Homo sapiens: one gene and its partner. The protein of the gene in region 1 purifies or fractionates together with the protein of each later gene. This does not show direct contact. Each region holds a gene or a part of one and is shown on either strand. Other genes may lie near its edges.

What was found. The genes of interacting proteins can lie anywhere in the genome.
Region 2: the proteins of GMDS (region 1) and TTC38 fractionate together in Homo sapiens (co-fractionation; one large-scale study listed by BioGRID). This does not show direct contact.

What each region holds. Positions count from the first base shown.
Region 1 is NC_000006.12:1,927,606-1,931,105, forward strand, and holds part of GMDS (GDP-mannose 4,6 dehydratase), read right to left. Parts: intron 2,626-3,500; coding exon 2,498-2,625; intron 1-2,497. UniProt on the Homo sapiens protein: Catalyzes the conversion of GDP-D-mannose to GDP-4-dehydro-6-deoxy-D-mannose.
Region 2 is NC_000022.11:46,271,008-46,274,507, reverse strand, and holds part of TTC38 (tetratricopeptide repeat protein 38), read right to left. Parts: intron 2,174-3,500; coding exon 2,092-2,173; intron 611-2,091; coding exon 439-610; intron 1-438.

The sequences.
Region 1 (3,500 bases):
AGATGTGGACTACACTCGCAGCAGCGCTAGCTTGGCATTTGGGAAGTGTTGTGCCCAGATGTGGACTACACTCACAGTGGAGCTAGCTTGGCATTTGGGAAGTGAGATGACAGCAGCGTCCTTCTTTCAGATCTACTCGTTGACACAAGACTTCCTCCTTACTTACTTAACACTCTCATTCATTTTCATGAGACTTTTTGGCCTGTTTCTGAAATGTCACCTCCTACCCCGGCCAATTACAAAGGTTTACACATGTTCATTTAAAATCTATGGAAAATAAAGACAGTATAAAGAAGAAAATAAACACAACCTGTAAAAAGCACTATCAACATTATGGTATACTGTTTCCCTCACTATCAAAATCTATTAGATTTCCGAATCCTTTTTCACCTACGTGCAAAATAATAAAATTGAATGAAATTTAATCGATTTGGTTCCTTGAACTTGGAGAAGAGTTTGGATAAATAATACCTATATAGGGCCAGGTGCAGTGGCTCAAGCCTGTAATCCCGGCACTTTGGGAGGCCAAGGTGGGTGGATCATGAGGTCAACAGATGGAGACCATCCTGGTCAACACAGTGAAACCCCGTCTCTACTAAAAATATAAAAATTAGCTGGGCGTCGTGGTACGCGCCTGTAGTCCCAGCTACTCATGAGTCTGAGGCAGGAGAATCGCTTGAACCCGGGAGGCAGAGGTTGCAGTGAGCCAAGATTGTGCCACTGCATTCCAGACTGGCAACAGAGCGAGACTCTGCCTTAAGAAAAAAAAAAAAAAGAATACCTATAGCTTACTATGTAGCTCTATGCAGATGCTGATGGCTAGAAGGCTAAACAATAAATAGATATTATTGAGAAAATAATGTATTTTTACATAACAAGCCTCATATTTTTCAGTAGGTAAGGTCATTTAGGTTAGACAAAAGAAAGTTTTGGCTTCTCTTGCCAGTATCTACTTTCTCATAATTTCTAAGCGTGAACCTATATATTTTTTGATGTGATGTTCTGAAAATAAATCTAAGGATTAATGTCATAAAATGCTTCTTTGTAATTATAGCTTAGAAGCACATATTTAAAAGATTTAGGCTGGGCACGGTGGCTCATCCCTGTAATCCCAGCACTTTGGGAGGCTAAGGCGGGTGGATCACCTGAGGTCAGGAGTTTGAGACCCGCCTGGTCAAAATGGTGAAACCCCATCTCTGCTAAAAAAACAAAAATTAGTCGGGTGTGGTGGCGCATGCCTATAGTCCCACCTACGCAGGAGGCTGAGGCAGGAGAATCGCTTGAACCTGGGAGGCCGAGGTTGTAGTGAGGCGAAATCATGCCACTGCACTCTAGCCTGAGCAACAGAGAGAGACTCTGTCTCAAAAATAAATAAATAAATAAATAAATAAATAAATAGATCTAAATGTTGCACTATTCAAAATCTAAAGTCAAAGCTAATTATTTTGTGCATAACAGAAATCAGTATTAGCTGTTCAAACACACACACATTTTTTATTGTTATGACCAAAAACAAGATGGCAGGTGAGCCTCATCTCTGCACTAGCAAACAAACTAATTGTTTGCTTTCTTTTGTAGGCATTAAAGTTTCTTTTTGAATTGCATAAATGAACAAGAAAGCTGGGTCCAGTTTCCTAGAGAGACATCATTCAGGACAGAAATAGGCTCATGAGCACAGGAAATCTGTGAGCACTTGAACAAGGACAGGCTACTCCAGGGAAAGGACAATGTCTCTACCATGCTTGCTCATGTCTGACCACAGAACCAACATGGATATTTAAAAGCAGGGAGATCAGGGCAAAGTAAAAGGTAACCATTTGTTTATAAAAGAAAAATCATACTACTTGCGTATGTAATATATGCAAACCCAAAACAGCATGTCTAGGAATGCCAAGAATGAAAATCTGAATTTCCCTTTAACAATATCCATTATTTCACAATAGAATCATTATTAACATCTTTCTCTATCTCTCTTTAATAGGTAAAGCTCAACGACATGCAATATAACATGTTAAGAAGTGTGTGATGTAATAACCAGACTCTTCAGCAGCAGAAAGCAGAGTTCCATAAGAATATTACTCTTGGCGGGACTTAGTAGAATAATGTAAGTCCAAGAATCTTGAATTATATACATTGAAATGAGGCAGTATTTCTAGAAGATCTGAGAACTAGTACTTTTATACCCCCAAAATAAAGAGGAGCACCATTCAAACACTTTTTCCATCTATCTATCCATCATCCAGCACAAATAATTGGAAGAGTATTTGTGAAAGTTTTCCTCATTCAAGTACCATTCAGTGTAAGCTACCTGTACGTCTGAACCACCAATCCCTGAACGACTGATCCCTGAAGTGAAAGCAGCATGAGTGTAAACATACCTGCCTTGGCAAAGGTTTGTATGCCCCCACCTCTAGGTCACACTTTTTCACTGTACGCTTGGCATTTAGAATATCAATGGATACGGGTATTTTCAAGAATGTAATGTGTCAGTTCCTACCTCCACATAGTCCTTGGCATGGCCCCAATCTCGTTTGGCATCCAGATTTCCCAAACTGAAACATTCCAGTTGTCCAAGGTAAATCTTAGCTACTGACCGGCTAATTTTTCGAGTAACGAAATTAGCTCCTAAAAAGAGGCAAAAGATGTAGTATCAGTCAAGTGCACTTGACACATTTAACAGTTTGGTGAACCAAACCCGATTTCGGCCTCTGGGCATTTCTTTCATTCTACACTCCCAGCCACCCTGTTAAAACAATAAAAGAAAAGAAAAAGAGAAAAGATCATTAACTGTCATTTAGACAAGTTAAGAAGCCCTAATTCCATGTGTCACATCAGCTCTACTTTCAGAACAAACGTTTTTCTTTGGGGGACATCTTAACATTCCTAATTTGTTGCTTCAATATGCAACCCAGGCATTAGGCCAAAGAAAAGCTGTTGGAATGCCAGTTTTTAAACAGAAAATTCAAAAGGGTTGTATAAAGGGAAATGCCAGAATGGACGACAGACATCTAAGACCACCCTGATTTTTTTTAAGAACACAAACATCATATATTCCTATTAATAAAGCTACTTTGGGACTCATGGGGAGAGAAAGAAACATAGCTTAGTTCACAGGGTAACTAGTTAAAGGAAACAAGAAAGGAATTTATTTAGGCTGCCTTTCTCTTAACAAAATAAGTGGTGATGGCTCTTATTTAGAAACCTGCACAGCCATCCAAATGATATGATATGGCCCCTGGGCAAAAGTTTCTCTGTACTATACTTAAGGCAATGCCACTTTCCAAATTCATTTCAGTGTTATTTACAGAAAGGGCTCCTAAATTTTGTGTAATATTTTGAAATGATTGGTTGAAAGGGGCCATATCTTGATGAAAGCACTGAAATTGTTTTAATGTTCTCTGGTCTTTAATGAAAACTCTATCTGCTTTTTCAAAGATCACAAAGTTAAAAGGCACTTCTGAGACAGTTTTACCTTGTTATCTAGGTAAGGTTATGAGAAA
Region 2 (3,500 bases), on another chromosome or scaffold:
GGGAACCAGCATAGGAACAGCGGGGGGATGATGTGAAAGTCAGTGCAAGAGCAAGGAACTTATGGGTGAAGATTTGATTTGATTGTTTATTTCTCACTAGAAGAAGCATGTTTTCTTCTCTCTTCCCTAACCTAGTAATTTCTGTAGTGTGACCCTATTATTTTTGTAAGGAAAATAATATATAATTTACTTAATGAAACAAAGCAAGTTACTTTGGACACTAAGTTGGGAATCTTCACCAACTGCTTCCTCACTCAGCACTCCACCAAGAATAGGGAAGCAGACAGGATGCGATTTTCCATCAGAGCATCTCAGGAGGCAGGGAGAGAAGCATTCTCCCACCCCGCCCCCGTCCCAAGGGCATCAGGAAAGGGATACCCTGCCACTCCCCCAGCTCAGCCTCAGGGTGCCAGCTCCCAGCCCAGGGAGGCCCCTCACCCATTGGCAAATGTCTCTACTGCAGACACGTGCAGCTGCTCCCGCCTTGTCAGCGGCTGGGTTCTTGAAATCTCCACCATTGTCTTCACAGCCAGGTCCAGCTCTTTGTCCAGCTTCACGGAGCTTCCAGTGCCAATCAGCACAAGGCCAGTAGCCATGGCGTGGCCCATCACTGGTGGGAGGTTAGAGAACGGCTGGTGGTTCAGATGGTCCAGCTCAGCCCATCCCAGCCCAGACTCCACATGTCACAGAGACACCCCACGTCCCAGGAGGGGCCAGCCAGGCAGCAGCAGGCTGGGCACTGTGGCCCTGCCTACTGTCTAGAACTCAGCCTCGGCTCTTGTCAAGCATGGAGGGAACTGCAAGCCTAAAGGCACCCTTGAACATTTTTCTAGTGAGGGCATTCTGCTGAGTGCCAGTGTCTAAAGCACCTTCCCCCTTCAATGGATGAGCCACTTAGAGGCTGCCTGCAGGCTCATCAGCTGACACTACCGCCACAGCCAGCACACGGCTCCCGGGAGGCATCAGTGGATGCTGCTCATAAGGGGCTGGACCAAGGAGGCCCCGGAGCACAGAAGTCATGATCCCATCTGTGCTGCTCACACATGCTAAAAGTTAGGGTGGGGGTGAGTGCCTTGTGGCCCTCGCAGCAGCCTTGCTGGCAGGAGTGCAGGCCCCCAGGCCCCACTGTGGGAGAGCCAGGGTGTCCACTGGCATTTGGAACTTGGTCACTGGCTCAGGCCTGGGACCCAGGACCCAACCATAGTGTGCTAGGACCACCCATGTGGACCCTGGAAAACAGCTGGTGATTCCGATGGTCGAGCCCAGCCCAGCCCAGCTGATGATTCAGGTGGTCGAAGCCCCCTGATCAGGGCTCAAGGTCTGCTCAGAGAGTCCGAGCCCACCCCTGGCTCCTGGCTCCCCATGACTGGGTTTGGCTCCCCCGTTCTCCCCCAGTTATTTCCTTGTTTGTCTTCTCCAGGGCAGTACAAGTCCCCTGCCTTAAGTCTGACTAGGCTGCAGCAGGGTGAGAAGGGTGTCCCTGCCGCACTGACAAGAGCCCTGTCCCCTCATCAGACCTTCTCCCAGGCCCGGAACCTTGCCGCACCACGGGACCACCCACCTGCAATGCACTGTGCTGGCTTCCCCATGCCCGCTGTACACATGGCTTGCCTGGATGCCAGCCTCTGTCACCACCTCACCCTGGCCACTCTGGATGAGGCCTCACTGGTCCCCTGACGGAGGCTGCAGCAGCCACCTCTCATGTTCCAGGGGTCTGGGCCTTGGATTCAGGAAGCTTTATCTAATCCCAGGGGTCAACCACCAGCTGGGTGGCTTTAAGTACAGTCTTACTCTTGCCAACCCTCAGTTTCCTCATCTGAGAAATGAGATCAGCATCTTCATTCCCGAATTGATGGTAATTAAAGAAAAGATGAGAAAAATGCCTTCTGATAGAACCTGGCATCTTTATGGGAGTGACTGTTTTTCCAGACACAAAGGCAGCTGTCATCTTCTCTCCCTCTGTGCAAATGCCACCCTGGTTGCTGCCACCCAACCTGCCTTCCCCATCCCAACTGTGTCCCTGTGGTAAAGGAAAGAGAGGGGCTGGATGTGTGAAGCGGGGCTCCTCCACCCAGGGAAGGCGTTACTCACCAAAGGTTGGATCTGCTGCTTTGAGCTTTGACAGGCAGCCCTCGATGCCACCGAGACTCTTGTCATTGGTCCATTTTACATACTGAAATGGGAAAAGCAAAACAAGTCCTCACGGAGCCCTTGGATCATTCTAACAAAGGTGGCTCTAAATCCAGGTTTACACTTTGGGAGGCCGAGGCGGGCAGAACATCTGAGGTCAGGAGTTCGAGACCAGCCTGACCAACACGGTAAAACCCCATCTCTACTAAAAATAGAAAAATTAGTGGGGCGTGGTGGTGCATGCCTGTAGTCCCAGCCACTTGGTAGGCAGAGGCATGAGAATCACTTGAACCCGGGGGCTGAGGTTGCAATGAGCCAAGATTGTGCCACTGCACTCCAGCCTGGATGGCAGAGAGAGACTGTCTCAAAAAACAAAAAATAAAAATAAATCCAGATTTGTTTTTCTTTGTAGAACACTGAGTATTTTCTGGACTCTAACCCAAAGAAGGCATAACCTGGCTGATAACTTTCTTCATACGAAGAAATGAAATACACATCACCCAAGGCACACTTTCTAGGGCTAGGGATGCTGCATTTCCAAAAAAGAAACATCAAAAGGCAGGTTCTGGCTGGGCGCGATGGCTCACGCCTGTAATCCCAGTACTTTGGAAGACTGAGGCGGGTGGATCACTTGAGGGCAGGAGTTTGAGACCAGCCTGGCCAACATGGCAAAACTCTGTCTCTACAAATAATACAAAAATTAGTCAGGCGTGGTGGCACATGTCTGTAGTCCTAGCAACTTGGGCGGCTGAGACTTGGGTGGCTGAGACAGGAGAATCGCCTGAACCTGGGAGGTAGAGGTTGCAGTGAGCTGAGATCGTGCCACTGCACCCCAGCCTGGGTGACAGAGAAAAGGAAAAAAAAAGGCCAGGTGTGGTGGCTCATGCCTGTAAGCCCAGCACTTTGGGAGGCCGAGGTGGGCGGATCATGAGGTCAGGAGATCGAGACCATCCTGGCTAACACGGTGAAACCCCCGTCTCTACTAAAGATACAAAAAATCAGCCGGGTGTGGTGGTGGGCGCCTGTAATCCCAGCTACTCGGGAGGCTGAGGCAGGAGAATGGCGTGAACCCAGGCGCCACTGCACTCCAGCCTGGGCGACAGAGTGAGACTCTGTCTCAAAAAAGAAAAAAAAGAAAAAAGAAAAGAAAGAAAAGGCAGGTTCCTCCTGACAGGTGACCTGCTCCACATCGGCTTCTTCTGCCCTAAGAGGAGCCCTGAAGTTGGTCACGATAGGAATATTCCTGCTTCTTATTCATTCGTTTTAAAAATATTCACAGAAAACATTTATTTTAGAGAGTTAGAAAGACACAAAAGCTGAAAGATAAAACTTACCCAAAGCTCATTTTATCATTTTTTTTTTAATTGAGA